Homo sapiens: one gene and its partner. Each later gene encodes a partner of the first gene's protein in a complex. Links are inferred from orthologs where the notes say so. Each region holds a gene or a part of one and is shown on either strand. Other genes may lie near its edges.

What was found.
Region 2: the proteins of VTI1A (region 1) and STX12 are in contact, whole or in part, in a crystal structure (PDB 2NPS), measured with the Rattus norvegicus proteins. The link is inferred for Homo sapiens from one-to-one orthologs. Residues at the interface, in XP_038945999.1 of Rattus norvegicus: Arg131, Arg134, Ser135, Arg138, Leu139, Ala141, Gly142, Ile145, Ala146, Glu148, Thr149, Ile152, Gly153, Met156, Asn159, Leu160, Asp163, Arg166, Arg169, Ala170, Arg173, Leu174, Glu176, Thr177, Asn180, Leu181, Lys183, Ser184, Ile187, Leu188; in NP_075228.2 of Rattus norvegicus: Glu185, Ile188, Gln189, Leu191, Glu192, Ile195, Leu196, Val198, Asn199, Phe202, Lys203, Leu205, Ala206, Ile209, His210, Gly213, Ile216, Asp217, Glu220, Val223, Glu224, Ser226, Glu227, Val230, Glu231, Ala233, Ser234, Asp235, Leu237, Gln238.

The regions. Positions count from the first base shown.
Region 1 is NC_000010.11:112,450,201-112,457,225, reverse strand, and holds part of VTI1A (vesicle transport through interaction with t-SNAREs homolog 1A), read right to left. Parts: exon of another isoform or gene 6,500-7,025; intron 1-6,499. UniProt on the Homo sapiens protein: V-SNARE that mediates vesicle transport pathways through interactions with t-SNAREs on the target membrane. These interactions are proposed to mediate aspects of the specificity of vesicle trafficking and to promote fusion of the lipid bilayers.
Region 2 is NC_000001.11:27,769,375-27,776,240, reverse strand, and holds the start of STX12 (syntaxin-12), read right to left. Parts: upstream 3,023-6,866; 5' UTR 2,934-3,022; coding exon 2,816-2,933; intron 1-2,815. UniProt on the Homo sapiens protein: SNARE promoting fusion of transport vesicles with target membranes. Together with SNARE STX6, promotes movement of vesicles from endosomes to the cell membrane, and may therefore function in the endocytic recycling pathway.

The DNA of each region.
Region 1 (7,025 bases):
TAAAATTTGGCTTTGGTGGGTCAGTTGAGCTTAGCAGTTAAGGTCCTCGACATTTCAGAGCCGAGCATCCTTTCCAACTTTATTTCCAACTACAAGGTTTCTAGTATGCAGTCTACAGACAGACTGTTCATTGCTACCCAAACAAATCTTGTTTTTTTCTTCTCTAAATCTTTGTTAAGCTACCATTTAGGGTTCTTTGGCTGAATGCGACAGAAGTGATTCTGGCTAAACTAATTCAAAAAAGATAATTTGTTAGAATAATGTGGGGTGGCTCATAGGATCAATGGACAAAAATGAGCCACCCAGCTTGGGAAAGACAAGTATGAGGAGTAGCTCAGGATACCAAGGAAATAGGAACTTACAGTCTCTGCTAAAGCAAAGTCTTGAGCGGCTCTAACTATTCTCTTTCCTTGGTTCATTCTGATCAAATTCCTGGCAAAAATTCTATAAATGTCCTTGCTTAGGTAATATGTTCACCTCTTGACCTACAGAGGGCAGGGCAGCCTGTCAGTTCTATCAAGACTGGAATAAGGGGGTTTAAGTAGTTCCTCAATAGGAAATTGAGTAGATAGAATGAAAGCTGCTGGGTGCAACAGATGCCCACTGCATCCATTTATTGCAACCTCTTATAATATAGTCTTTGCTTGTTTCTGTCTGTCCAAACCCCACCTATCCTTCTAGGCGAGGTCCTGAGACATACCTCATTTCCTTTGAATTCCTAGAGTTCTATGCTCGGCTCTAGGGGGTACAACGGTCATTAAAAATTAGGTTCTACAGTTTCCTCTTTTTTTTTTTTTTTTTTTTGAGATGGACTCTCACTTTGTCACCCAGCCTGGAGTGCAGTGGTGCAATCTTGGCTCACGGCAACCTCCACCTCCCAGGTTCAAGTGGTTCTCCTGCTGCAGCCTCCCGAGTAGCTAGGACTACAGGCATGCGCCACCACACACAGCTAATTTTTGTATTATATTAGTAGAATGAGGTTTCACCATGTTGGTCAGGGTCATCTCAAACTCCTGACCTCAAGTGATCCACCTGCCTCGGCCTCCCAAAGTGCTGGGATTACAGGTGTGAGCCACTGCACCTGGCCTGCAGTTTCCTCTTCAGGCTCATTGCCGGCTCCTTGAAGGCAGAGACTACTCTTGACAAATCGTGTCCAAACTCTGTATTTAGCATAGAGAGCTGTACATGGTAGGGGCCACTAAGTGCTTACAGAATAAATGAGTCAGTCTTAGCACGCAGCAACATACTTATTACTCACAGAGAAACTGAGGGGGAAAAACAGCTCATTTTAGTGAGGACTGGGGCAAATCTTCCCATTTGAAATGACAAATTTCCCTTCACGAAAAAAATAATTAAATTGGAATAGAGGTGGAGTTAACACAATTAGATCATTTTCTTTTCATAAAATTCATTTTGTGATGGTGCTGTCAGAAATAATGATGGAACTGAGACATTCTTTGATTGGTCCTTATAGTGTTCCTCATGTTTTTAAGAAGGCAAATCTCAAAAGTGATGATTTAGGGGTAAAGTATGAGGAAGGAAGGAAGGAAGGAAGGAAGGGAGGAAGGGAGGGAGGGGAGAAGGAGGGAAGGAACAAAGGAAGGAGGGAAAGAACAAAGCAAGGTGAGAAGGAGGGCGGGAGGAAGGGAGGGAGCAGAGAAGGAAGGAAGGAAGGAAAGGGAAGTGAAGGGAAGGAACAAAGGAAGGAAAGGAACAAAGGAAGGAGAGAAGGAGGGAGGGAGGGAGGAAGGAAGGAGGGAAGGAGGGAAGGAGGGAAGGAGGGAAGGAGGGAAGAAGGGAAGGGGGAAGGGGGGAAGGGGGAAAGGGGGGAAGGAGGGAAGGAGGGAAGAAGGGAAGAAGGGAAGGGGGAAGGGGGAAGGGGGAAGGGGGGAAGGAGGGAAGGAGGAGCGGAGGGGAGTGGAGGAGGGGAGGGGAGGGGGAGGGGAGGGGAGGAGGGGAGGGGAGGGGAGGGGAGGGGAGGGGAGGAGGGGAGGGGAGGTGAGGGGAGGGGGGAGGGGAGGGGAGGGGGGAGGTGAGGGGAGGAGGGGAGGGGAGGAGGGGAGGAGGGAAGGGGAGGGAACTGAACTAGATGACCTTGGAAATACCTACCAACACGAAGTTTTGGTAACCTGGCAACATTTACATGTAATTCCCAAAAGAGATTCATTCTGCCCACCCCAAATGACATCCCCTTTCAAACAACATGTACCTAGGATTCAGACCTTTGTAACTAAGGGCTATCATTAATGTACATGGTGCTCTGTGTTTAACATTGTTATAGTCAATCCTTAAAACAACCTTTTTGAGGTATTATTACTATCCCTTTCTCAAGCCATTAAATAAGATCAGAGATACTAAATTATTTCCTGAAAGTTCAACAACTAATAAATAGCAGAGTTGGAACTCTAATGGGGTGGGTCTGTTGTCCTGAACTGAGCTCGTAACTGCTATATGTATTATATAAAATATACTATTTAATATATAAACAGTCTCCCACTTTTTTTTTTTTTTTTGGTCTATAAGCTTGATAAGTGCTGATGTACATACACATAAGTCTTAGCATAGTATGTATGATCTTTTCTTTCCTACTCAATACATTTTTAATTAGTTTTCTTTTTCATTTAGAGACAAGATCTCGCTCTGTCACCCAGGCTAGAGTGCAGTGGCATGATCATAGCTCACTGTAACCTCAAACTCCTGGGTTCAAGGTGTCCTCCCATCTCAGCCTCCTGAGTAGCTGGGATGACAGGTGCGTGCCACTATGCCCAGCTAGTTTTAAATTCAATTTTATTTTGTAGAGATGGGGCTTCACTATGTTGCCCAGGCTGATCTTGAGCTCCTGGGCTCAAGTGATCCTCCCATCTTGGCCTCTCATTTCCTACTCAATAGAAGTTCTTAGTGCTGACGTACAAACAAGTCTTTGCATAGTATAATTCTTGATATTTACAGAAGTGCTTAATCAGCACAGAACACCCTCATTAAAGTGTCAAGGCTCACTTGAATTCAGTTACTTGTACCTGTCTTTGTGCAATGTAGATATGTTAAAATAAAACTAGCAGCAGAAATTATGTATGTACTTAGAAATGTAGGGTCAAACCACTAAGAGAGGAACAGATAATTTTTAAATGGGTATATTACTGATGCTACCCTGTGTAACATGGTATAGAATGGTCAGTGTTGAAATAAAGCAATTACAGAATGATCCATCTGATAATGGATTAGAGCTGGAGATACTAGTATGAACTTGTGTTTAACATACTATATATACAAATGATTACATATGCAAATGCTTGTAGATATGTTCATATACATGGCTTAGTATATACATGTGAATTTCCTTGCTTTGTCAGCTGAGAGGTTCCAGAGGCAACAACACCCCGGGAGTAATGTGCACACCTACTGTCCAGATCTTGGTTTCTAATACCCTTCTTTAATTAAAGGAAACAGGATTCCTCAGAGAAAGGGCTGATTCTAGCACTGAAACAGGAAATAGAGAAGATGATCCTGGAGTATCTTATACTATCAGAAAGCAATATAGTCCTTAAAAAAAAGAAAAGAAAAAAGCCAAAATGATGGGGGTATACCAAAAGGACACAGAAGCCAAATTAAAAAAAAGGCTCCCAATGGTCAACGCTAAAACAATTTGAGCAACATGAAAATAAAGTAGTATTGGAATATAACACAAAGGATAAAATAGGTATCTATGAGTCCATACTGATGTAAATGACTGAATAAGTAAATAAATGAATAGATAAATCTCTCTTACATAAAAGAATTACAAATAATTCACGTAATTACTTGGCTTCAAGGAGGTAGAGTGTAACTCTCCACTCCTTAAGTATAGGCTATGCATATATGATTTTCTTCCAAATAGTATGGAAAAGGGAGGGAAACAGTAACTTTACAGTGGAGAAACCTGGCAAACACTACCTCAGCCACGTGATAAAGGTTAACATCAGTAGTGATAAGTCATGTTGACAGTATGTATTCTTGGTATGTGGTGAAAATGATGCTTTACTTCTGTGGTCCTCCTCCCCAAAACCCAGAACTCCAATCTAATCATGAGAAAAACATTGAGCAAATCCCAGTTGAGGGAACCTTCTAGAAAATATCTGACCAGTACTCTTCTAAACTGTAAAGTCATCAGAAACAAGGACAGTTTGAGAAACTGTCATAGCCATGAGGGGCCTAAAAATCCATGAGTACTAAATGTTTTACAGTGTCCCAGATTGGATCCTGGAATAGTTAAAGGACATTAGGTAAAAAGAACAAACAGAACAAAACGAAATCTGAATAAAGTATGACCTTTAGTTAATAATAATGTATCAATATGGGCTCACTAGCTGTAACAAATGTACCATATTAACATGATGTTAATCACAGAGAAAACTGGGCATGGGGTATATGGGATTCTCCGTACTATCTTTGTGATTTTTCTGTAAATTTCAGACTGTTCTAAAATAAAAAGTTTATTTAAAAAAAAAAAACAAAAACAAAAGACTGAAGCCATTACTTAGGTTGACTAAATTGACCAATATATAGACAACATACAGATATATAGATCTATAGATGCATACACACACACAATTGTTTATATGAATGTATATTATTCAAAGATGAATACAACCCCATAAAAGCTTAATTTTTTTTTTTTTTTTTGAGACAGAGTCTCACTGTGTCACTAGGCTGGAGTGCAGTGGCGCAATCTTGGCTCACTGCAACCTCTGACTCCCTGGTTCAAGTAATTCTCCTGCCTCAGCCTCCTGAGTAGCTAGGATTAGAGGCACGTGCCACTACACCCAGCTAATTTTTGTATTTCTAGTAGAGACGGGGTTTCTCCATGTTGGCCAGGATGGTCTCGATTTCCTGAGCTCGTGATCTGCCCGCCTTGGCCTCCCAAAGTGCTGAGATTACAGTGTGAGCCACCGCGCCCGGCCCTAAATGCTTAAATTTTTTATGAGACATAACTGGGCCATCAGTAACTGCTAAAGACTATCTTCCCTGTATGCTCAATTGAAAAAGCTGGACCTTGCCCAGCAGCTCATGAAGCAGATTTTGAGGTAGCCTGAATCCTAACAAGGAACAAACTATTGTAGCAGTGAGTTCCTGAATCAGGACTGGAACCATCCCTTCAACTGTAACCCTCTAGAGCAACAGAAATATAATGCAAGTCACACATGCAATTTTAAATTTTCTTGTAGCAGTATTTTTTAAAGTTTTCAAAAATAAAAAACTTTTAAGAGAAACAAGTGAAATTAGTTTTAATAATGTTTTTAATTTCAATAATACGTAATTGCATATATCTAAAATATTATCATTTCACAATGTAGCAACAGCCACATTTCAGGTGCTCAATAGCTACACGTAGATATTACAGCTCTAAAGCCAAATATATTTTAAGCAAACCACAATATTCATGAACAAAAGCCAACTTTTCTGAATTATCTCACTGCAACCACCTTGCAAAGGCAAGAGAGAATCACAGAAGTATGTTTATGCCTTCATCTACACGTGGCTAAGTCTAGATGGTCTAGACAATCCTCCAGGGCTTGGCATAACCAATCCACTAGACTCAGGCATTTCCTTCCAGAAAGGACACCTGCCTTGTCCGACACCACTTTCACTTCTCTCCTCCGACTGCCCCCCTTGGGATCCTGAGTTCAAAGCCCAGTTCCAAATTCATATCCAAAAGGCCCTAATCACTTACCTCCTTTCAAATGTGTTCATCAAGAGAAATTTACCTAATTCTAGTCTAGGAACAGAAAGGAAGCAAGAATTGAAGTGTAAGATTTAAGAGTTCAATTAACATGACAAAGTCTGAAGAGCGGGGTCCTAGCTAATCTTACCAACTGTTGTCTTCAGCAGCAGCAGTAATATCATTAATGGCTAGTATATCACGTGTTTTCTCTGTGTAAGAAGGGTGCTAGTGTGTTACATGTTTTATTTCACTGATTTTTACATTATAAGGTTGAAATTATTACTCTCTCACCCCCATTCTACCGATGGAGGAGACAGGCCTAGAAAGGCCAAGCAATTGTCCATGACTGCACATCTAGTAAGTAGCAGAACTAGGGTTCTAAACAGATCTGATGTCATGTCTGAATCTGAATCATTTTGCTGTAATACTTTCTTGGTACAATTCTGAGGACAGCCATAAAGTGACAGGATTCACAACAGATCATTCCCTCTCTGTGAATGGTAAAGTAAGCAACTAATTGCAAAAAGACTACTTTAAAATTCTTCAGGAAGCCTATTTCGTGTAACAGAATCTTTGCACCAGAGGAAAACATTCCCCACTTAAGAATTCACTCCCATCACTAGAGGAAAAGGAACTTCACAATAAAGTACTAACTGTATAGTTTCTGCTCATCCCTTTTCCTTACTTTCCCACAGAACCATAATAATTAAAAAAACAATGTTCAAATATAGTGCCATAGGGTATTAAGAAAGAACTCACCCATCTCAGTTCAATTACTAAAATTAGTTAAGATTCAAACACTTTAAGAGCAAAATCTCTTTATTGTTTAAAAAATATCACAGAGTAATCAGATTTCTTTCTTAAAATAAAATTTTTAAATGTTCACTCTTCTGTTCTCTTTGGAAGCAATACTTTAATACATTGTAACATGCACAGCAGAGTAAAGTTCATTTCAATAGATCTACCCACTCTACTTGAATTTAAGTAAGTTACTATGTTGGGGGAATTAACTGCTTTGGCTGGAAAGTTTGCTCCAATTTTTATCCTTCTTAACTCAAGTAAATTATAGTTCACCTCCTCTGGGTCACTTTTAGCTCAACACTGCACTCGCCAATGATGGCCAGAGAGAGAGATTATAATTACTTGTCATCAAACTATTTTTGCCATGGTTATATATATTAATGTCTGTTCATCTACAGACATACATCTGAAATTCATAACTACATGGATATATTTTTCATCTTTTTCTATACATCAATTGGAAATAGATTTAAAAAGGGGCAAGCACAAGTCATTATTAAGAGGGCAACTACTGCGTTTTTAAGAA
Region 2 (6,866 bases), on another chromosome or scaffold:
GCACTTTTCATACTGCCTGGAACACAGTATGTACTCAAATGTTAGCTATTAATATTACTAACAGTTGACTTAAATGATCCCCTGAGGCCCAATGCCCAATCAATAGCTAAATCTTACCAATTCTATCACCAAGGAAACCTCTCCTATCCTTTCCTTTCTTTTCATTTTCACAGCCCTAACTGGTATCTCTGATTCCAGTCTCTCCCTTTGAATTCAATTCGCACTTTCCTAAATAACTAAATCCAAGCCCCTTAGCTTAGCATTTAACATCCTTCATGTTTGGGCCACAATTTACCTTTCAATCCTTTTTTCCCACTACTTTCTGGAATCCACCACTCTAGCCAAATTAAATTACTCTTCTAGATATACTCTATGCTTCCCCACTATGATGCCTGTTCATTTTATTCCCTCCTGGAATGCTCTTCTCCTCTTTACCTTCGAAGGTCCAAATCTTTCCATCCTCTTTCCAGACATAACTCAAATGCCATAATGCCTTCTCAATTAAAAACAATCTCTCTCTTCCCAGAATACCTGCATGTTATTTATATGTCTTCTATAGCACCAATCCCTTTCAACTTTATATTTTGGTTATGAACTCTGCAGGTTCCCTGTTGAAAGATCCATGCCAGTTCTTATACTTACTACATACTCAAATAAATATATGTTGAAGGCCAGGCATGATGATTCATGCCTGTAATCCTGGCCTATTCGGAGGCCAAGGTGGGTGGATCACTTGAGCACAGGAGTTCAAGACCAGACTGGACAACATGGTGAAACTCCATCTCTACAAAAAATATAAAAATTAGCCGGGCGTGGTGGTGCACACCTGTAGTCCCAGCTACTTGTAGGGCTGAGGCAGGAGGACTGCTTGAGCCAGGGAGGTTGAGGCTGCAGTGAGCTGAGATCATGCCACTGCATACCAGCCTGGGTGACAGAGTGAGACCCTGTCTCAAAATAAAAATTTAAATTTAAATTTAAAACTGTATGTCGGATCTACCTTTGGGAGTATTCTGGTTTTATATATATATAAAATACACACGAAGATGGATAGATGGATACATGTTGAATGAATATTTCGCAAATAGATATTAAAATTAGATTTAGCTTCAACAAGAAAATTTCAGCCTTGAACTAGAATTTTCTGATCTAACCTGTATTACAGCTCCTTCACAAAAGGAAACTGGAACAAACAGTACTATACTTTCTAACCAGTGGTCATATTAATTTTTTTTACTTCTGGATTTTAACAGGCCACATATTCTTCCTTTCACTTCCAGAGTCTCAATCCCTTTTGATCAGAAACTTTCTACTTCTCAAATTCTACAATATACATTTAGATTTAAAAGCAAAGTGAGCCTGGGCAACATAGTGAGACCCCATCCCTACAAAAAATTTAAAAATTAGCCTGGCACGGTAGATGCATCCTTGTAGTCCTTGCTACTCAGCAAGCTGATCAGGAATTCAAGGTTATAGTGAGCTAGGATTGTACCACTTCACTCAGATCACTGCATTCTGCCTGGGTGACAGAAGTAGACTCTGTCTCGAAAAAATAAATTAAAAATATTTTAAATCAAAAAAATTAGGCTAGGCACAGTGGCTCACGCCTGTAATCCCAGCACTTTGGGAGGCTAAAGTGGGAGAAGTGCTTGTGCCCAGGGGTTTGAGACCAGCCTGGCCAACATAGCAAGACTTCATCTCTACAAAAAAGAAAAATTTTTAAAAGTTTAAAAACGAAAGCAAAGTGACACTCTTTAAAATATAGAATATAATTGTAATTCAGGACTAACTAGTTCTACCTATTAACAGAGTACGCCAAGCTCACAAAACAATAATAAACAACAAGGATGATGACCACCATTCTTTCCAAGTAAAGCTGCTGCTGATCTCCTGTTTATAAGGCTCCAAGATGATTTTCAAGCACAAGAAACACCCTGTATTTGACTCATTCAGCTACAGTTTCACTCAGACCCTAATGGGGAGGAGGGAGTTTTAAGACAAGCAATAGCATTCTGAATTCCACCAACAACTCTACCATGCCTTACTTGCTATGTGGTTGTGGCTAAGTGTCTTAGCTTCCCTGTGTACCAGATTTGTTCAAGAGCAGCTAAGTAGGGAAGGAAAACAAAAGCCTCATCTGCCTGAAATCCAAAAATACACCCCAATTATTTGTTACAAAAGACAAAATAATGTAAATTGAAATGCTGTTGGTGAATTCTCTTTATTAAAATGAAGTCATCCCACCTTTCAAATACCAGTCATTGTGTCTGATTTCCGAATTCATTACAGGAAGAACTGTGTATGAAGTCACCCAAACACATGCACTCTCCACTTCCCTTAATTGAAAGTTGCTGATTTCCGAGGAGCCAGGGGCTGAGCAGAATGTAAACCTAAAGGCTAAATCAGTAAACAACCCCATCCAAACTGGTCTAAGAGGAAAGCGAGGTGGGTGGGGAGGAAGGTGGGTGACAGGAGAAACTCGGCTGACCACTGCGCCAAGTCAACGCACTCACAGCTCTCGAGGTGACACACACTCCCCTTCCCACCCTCGGGCTGTCAAGTCGGCTGTTTTGGTCCCAGCACCGTGGGGGCAGAACTCCAGAGAAGCAGCTCAAGCTTCAGCTGGGGCCGGGGACCCTCGGGCAACCCGGGCCTGACAGATTGGGGGATGGCAGCCCACCGCCCCCAGGGTGGACAGCCCGAGACAGCCCCAGGTGTGGCCTCGGCCGTAGCCCCAGCCGGGCCCTGCGTCCCGGCAGCCTCACCCAGGCCTGTCCCCGGGACAGCTCCCGCCCCCCAGCTCGGTACCCCGGCTCACTGGCTTGGCTGATCCGCTGGATGTTGCCGCTGCACGTCTGGATGATGCTGCTGAAGTCCCGGAGCTGGGGCCCCGAGGGCCCCGGGTTCCGGTACATGTCTAAGGGACCGTATGACATGACGAGGAGCTGAGACCTGCTCGCTCTACACCGCTCTCCTACCGGAAGCAGCCGCCAGCCGGGACCCGCAGGCTGACGGAGAAACTGGGAAGAGCAAGGGCGGGGAAGGAGCTAAGGCTGCGTGCGCACTAGCCCCGCCCTCACGCGGCGCGCACGCGTCCTCCCCGCCCCGGTCCAAAGTGCGCAGGCGCCGCTGGGACTGGAGCTGGGACTGGAGCTGGGACTGTAGCTTAGAGACAGGACTCCCCGAGGCTTGGGGATGCAGGGCGGGGAGATGACGTCACCTAGTTGGGGCTGAGATTGGATGAGCTTGGGTGGAGGTGTTGTTTCTCGCCAGGGCACAGTGACAAGAGGCAAGAATTTTCGATTTGCATAAAACTGTACCAGATGATCTCAGCCCTTACATCCTATTCTGTTCTGAGAATTCAGGCCCAAATATGGGAGAATTCAACGTTGAAACTCAGACCCGGAACCAAATCGTAACCCGAAATTCCTCTCTACTTCCATCCCCAGGGCTTTGGTAGTGTTTGGGGTTTCCAAACCACTTTCATTTCTCCCTCCACCCCTCTTCTAATCTAAACAATAAAATAATGTTTATTGAGCACATACTATGTGAATCCTCACCGCAATTCACTTGTTCATAAGATTTTTCACAGCAGGGGACGATGCTCTATCTATATTTTTATCATTAGAATAGATAACGGAGAGTCGGTTTTTTAAATGTTGAAGTAAAGTAATTCATCAAAGTAAGCATTATTATTTTCCCTCTTACCGATGAGAAAATTAAGACCAGCGAGGTTAGTTCGCCTTGCTGAAATTTGACTGCAAAACCCAAACGCTAAGCTGACTCTCTCCTCACCTCGCTACTTCTCTAAAATTCATTCTCGTCTAAATCTCTCCCAAATAGCTCGTTCATCTATATCCCAAGCCGGGATATCTTGGAGAACTAGATTCCTAAAATTTAAAAATCGTTCCCTTAAGTAATTTGGAATGCATGACCTCAATGTTCCCACAGAAAACTGCATTTTTGTAAGCCTATGTTAAAAGGAAAGACATAGGATTTTGGTTTGGGAGGAGATCAAGATAGTGAGAAGTGAAGGGGAACTGGCTGCGTTTCCTGTGTTCTACACCCCACCCCACCCCACCCCAGCCTGCTTTGTAGTCTTTGGAAAATGCAAAGACAGAAAGCTGCTTGCCTGGATGAAAGGAGACCCAAAGTGAATGAGCCTGTATATGGCCTTAGGATTTTTTCTTTATTTTATTTTTTTTGAGACAGGGTCCCGCTCTGTCACGCAGGTTGGAGTGCAGTGGCGCGATCTCTGCTCACTGCATCCTCCTTCTCCTGGGCTCAGGAGGTCCTACCACCTAACCTCTGAGTAGCTAGGATTACAGGCGTGCGCCACCACGCCCAGCTAATTTTTATATTTTTTGTAGTGTTGGGGTTTGGCCATGTTGTCCAGGCTGGTCTCAAACTCCTGGGCTCAAGCAATCCACCCACCAGCCTTAGGATTTTTTAAGGGTGACTATCTCTATTTTTCGTTGGAGAATTTATGAGAGCATTTTTTTTCCCTGTCTCTAGAAAGAGACGGATGACATTTGGGGACTCTTATTTTGGTTATTTTATTTTATTTTATTTTTGAGACAGAATCTTGCTCTGTTGCCCAGGCTGGAGTGCAATGGCGCAATCTCGGCTCAATGCAACCTCCGCCTCCTGGGTTCAAGCGATTCTCCTGCCTCAGCCTCCCGAGTAGCTGGGATTACAGGCGTGTACCACCACGCCCGGGTACTTTTTGTATTTTTAGTAGAGATGGGGTTTGACCATGTTGGCCAGGCTGGTCTCGAACTCCTGACCTCAGGTGATCCACCCGCCTCGGCTTCCCAAAGTGTTGGGATTACAGGCGTGAGCCACCGCACCCAGCCTGTTTTGGTTATTATTATAAAACCTTACCGTTTCTTAGAATCTGTAGTTTTATGTCAAATCTTAAGCAAGTCATGTAAATTGCACTTTTTTACCTATATAATAGTACTGATGATTTTTTTCATTTACATTTGACACTATTTAAAGTGAAGTTCAGTAAAGATATTTTTCTTTTAGGAATTAAAAATATTGTTTTCTTTCTCCATGTAAAATAAAAGTGGTTTTTAGGCTGGGCGCGGTGGCTCACAACTGGAATTCCAGCACTTTGGGAGGCTGAGGCAGGCTGATCATTGCTTGAGCTCAGGAGTTCGAGACCAGCCTGGGCAAAATGGCAAAACCCTATCTCTACCAAAAATACAAAAATTAGCTGGGCATAGTGGCCTGAGCCTGTAGTCCCAGCTACTCGGGAGGCTGAGGCAGGAGTGTAGCTTAAGCCAGGGAGGCAGAGGTTGCAGTGAGCATCTCTCATAGCAGTAAATCTGTGCCTTGCAAATACTGGATGTCAAACAAACATTTATTGAATTAACACATGAATAATAAAAATAATAATTTTATCATTGCTTAAATGCCTGTTAGGTGCCAGGCAGTATGAACACATTTTGTGTACGTTATCAGTAATCTCCAAGATAAAGCCCATCTGATAAAGACCACCTGTAGTCAGACAAAGTTAAGTTTATTAACTTGCTGCTGCAAGGGAAACTGCACACCAAAAGAATCATGGAGCATGTCACAAAACACAGGAAGACAGTGAGTTATTCCAGGATTTGGGGGAAAGAAATGTAGATAAATTTTTAAAGAAGCAGTGTTTTGATAGCCCCCAAACACACCAGGCTATGTGTAAAGGGATTATCATCAGGCCCCAGCTAACAAGATCCTGTTTCCTTGGAAACCATGATGCCAAGATAAATGTGGAATGTTGTGTCTGGAAACCCCTTATCTGAAGCTCTGCACCTGCGTTAGAAATTGAGGCTGCTCTTCTGCATCAAAGTAACTGATCCTCCAGGTAAGAGTGATATATTCCATTCTTACTGATAATTTGAGCAACAAATTTTCTAAAAATCTATGGCTTTAGAGAAAATGTCTCTCAGCTCTACATACTTTTGTTAATTAACGAAAGTAGTCTTCATGGGTTTGCACCCATCAAGGCGATATTAGCTCCTTGGTACGGATAAAGAAACTAGAGATTCTGGGTACTTGCCTAATGTCATACAGCTGTTAAGTGACAGAGCCAGGATTCCCATGCACCTTCTGACCCAGCAATTCTACTCCTAACTATATACCCAACTATGCGTGTTCCAAAAATCAGGTATAGTTCATAGGAGCATTTTTAGGACCAAGCAGCATTTTTCTATACTTATTTACTTTTTGTTTTTTTTTTTCGGAGACAGGCTGGAGTGCAGTGGCGTGATCTCGACTCACTGCAGCCTCAATCTCCCTGGCTCAAGCCATCTTCCTACCTCAGGCCTCCAAGTAGCTGGGACTACAGGCACGCACCACCACACCTGGCTAATTTTTGTATTTTTTTGTTGAGATGTGGTCTTGCCATGTTGCCCAGGCTGGTCTCAAACTCCTGGGCTCAAGCAATTCACCCACCTCGGCCTCCCAAAGTGCTGGGATTACAGGAGTGAGCTATGACACCCAGCCCTTACATTTAATTTTTATTGAGTTATAATTGATATACAATCGAATGCACAGATAGTAAGTGTTCAGCTCAATGGATTTTGACACTTGTACACATCCATGTAACTGCCACACCCAAATCAAGAGATAAAACATTTTTATCATCACCCCAGAAAGTTTCCTTGACTTATGCTCCTTTTTAATCCATTTCCCTCATCACTGGAAGTTACTTACTGATTTTTTTTTTTTTTTGAGATGGAGTCTCACTCTGTCGCCCAGGCTGGAGTGCAGTGGCACGATCTTGGCTCACTGCAACCTCCACCTCGTGATTCAAGCAATTCTCCTGCCTCATCCTCCCAAGTAGCTGTGAATATGGGCATGCGCCACCATGTCCA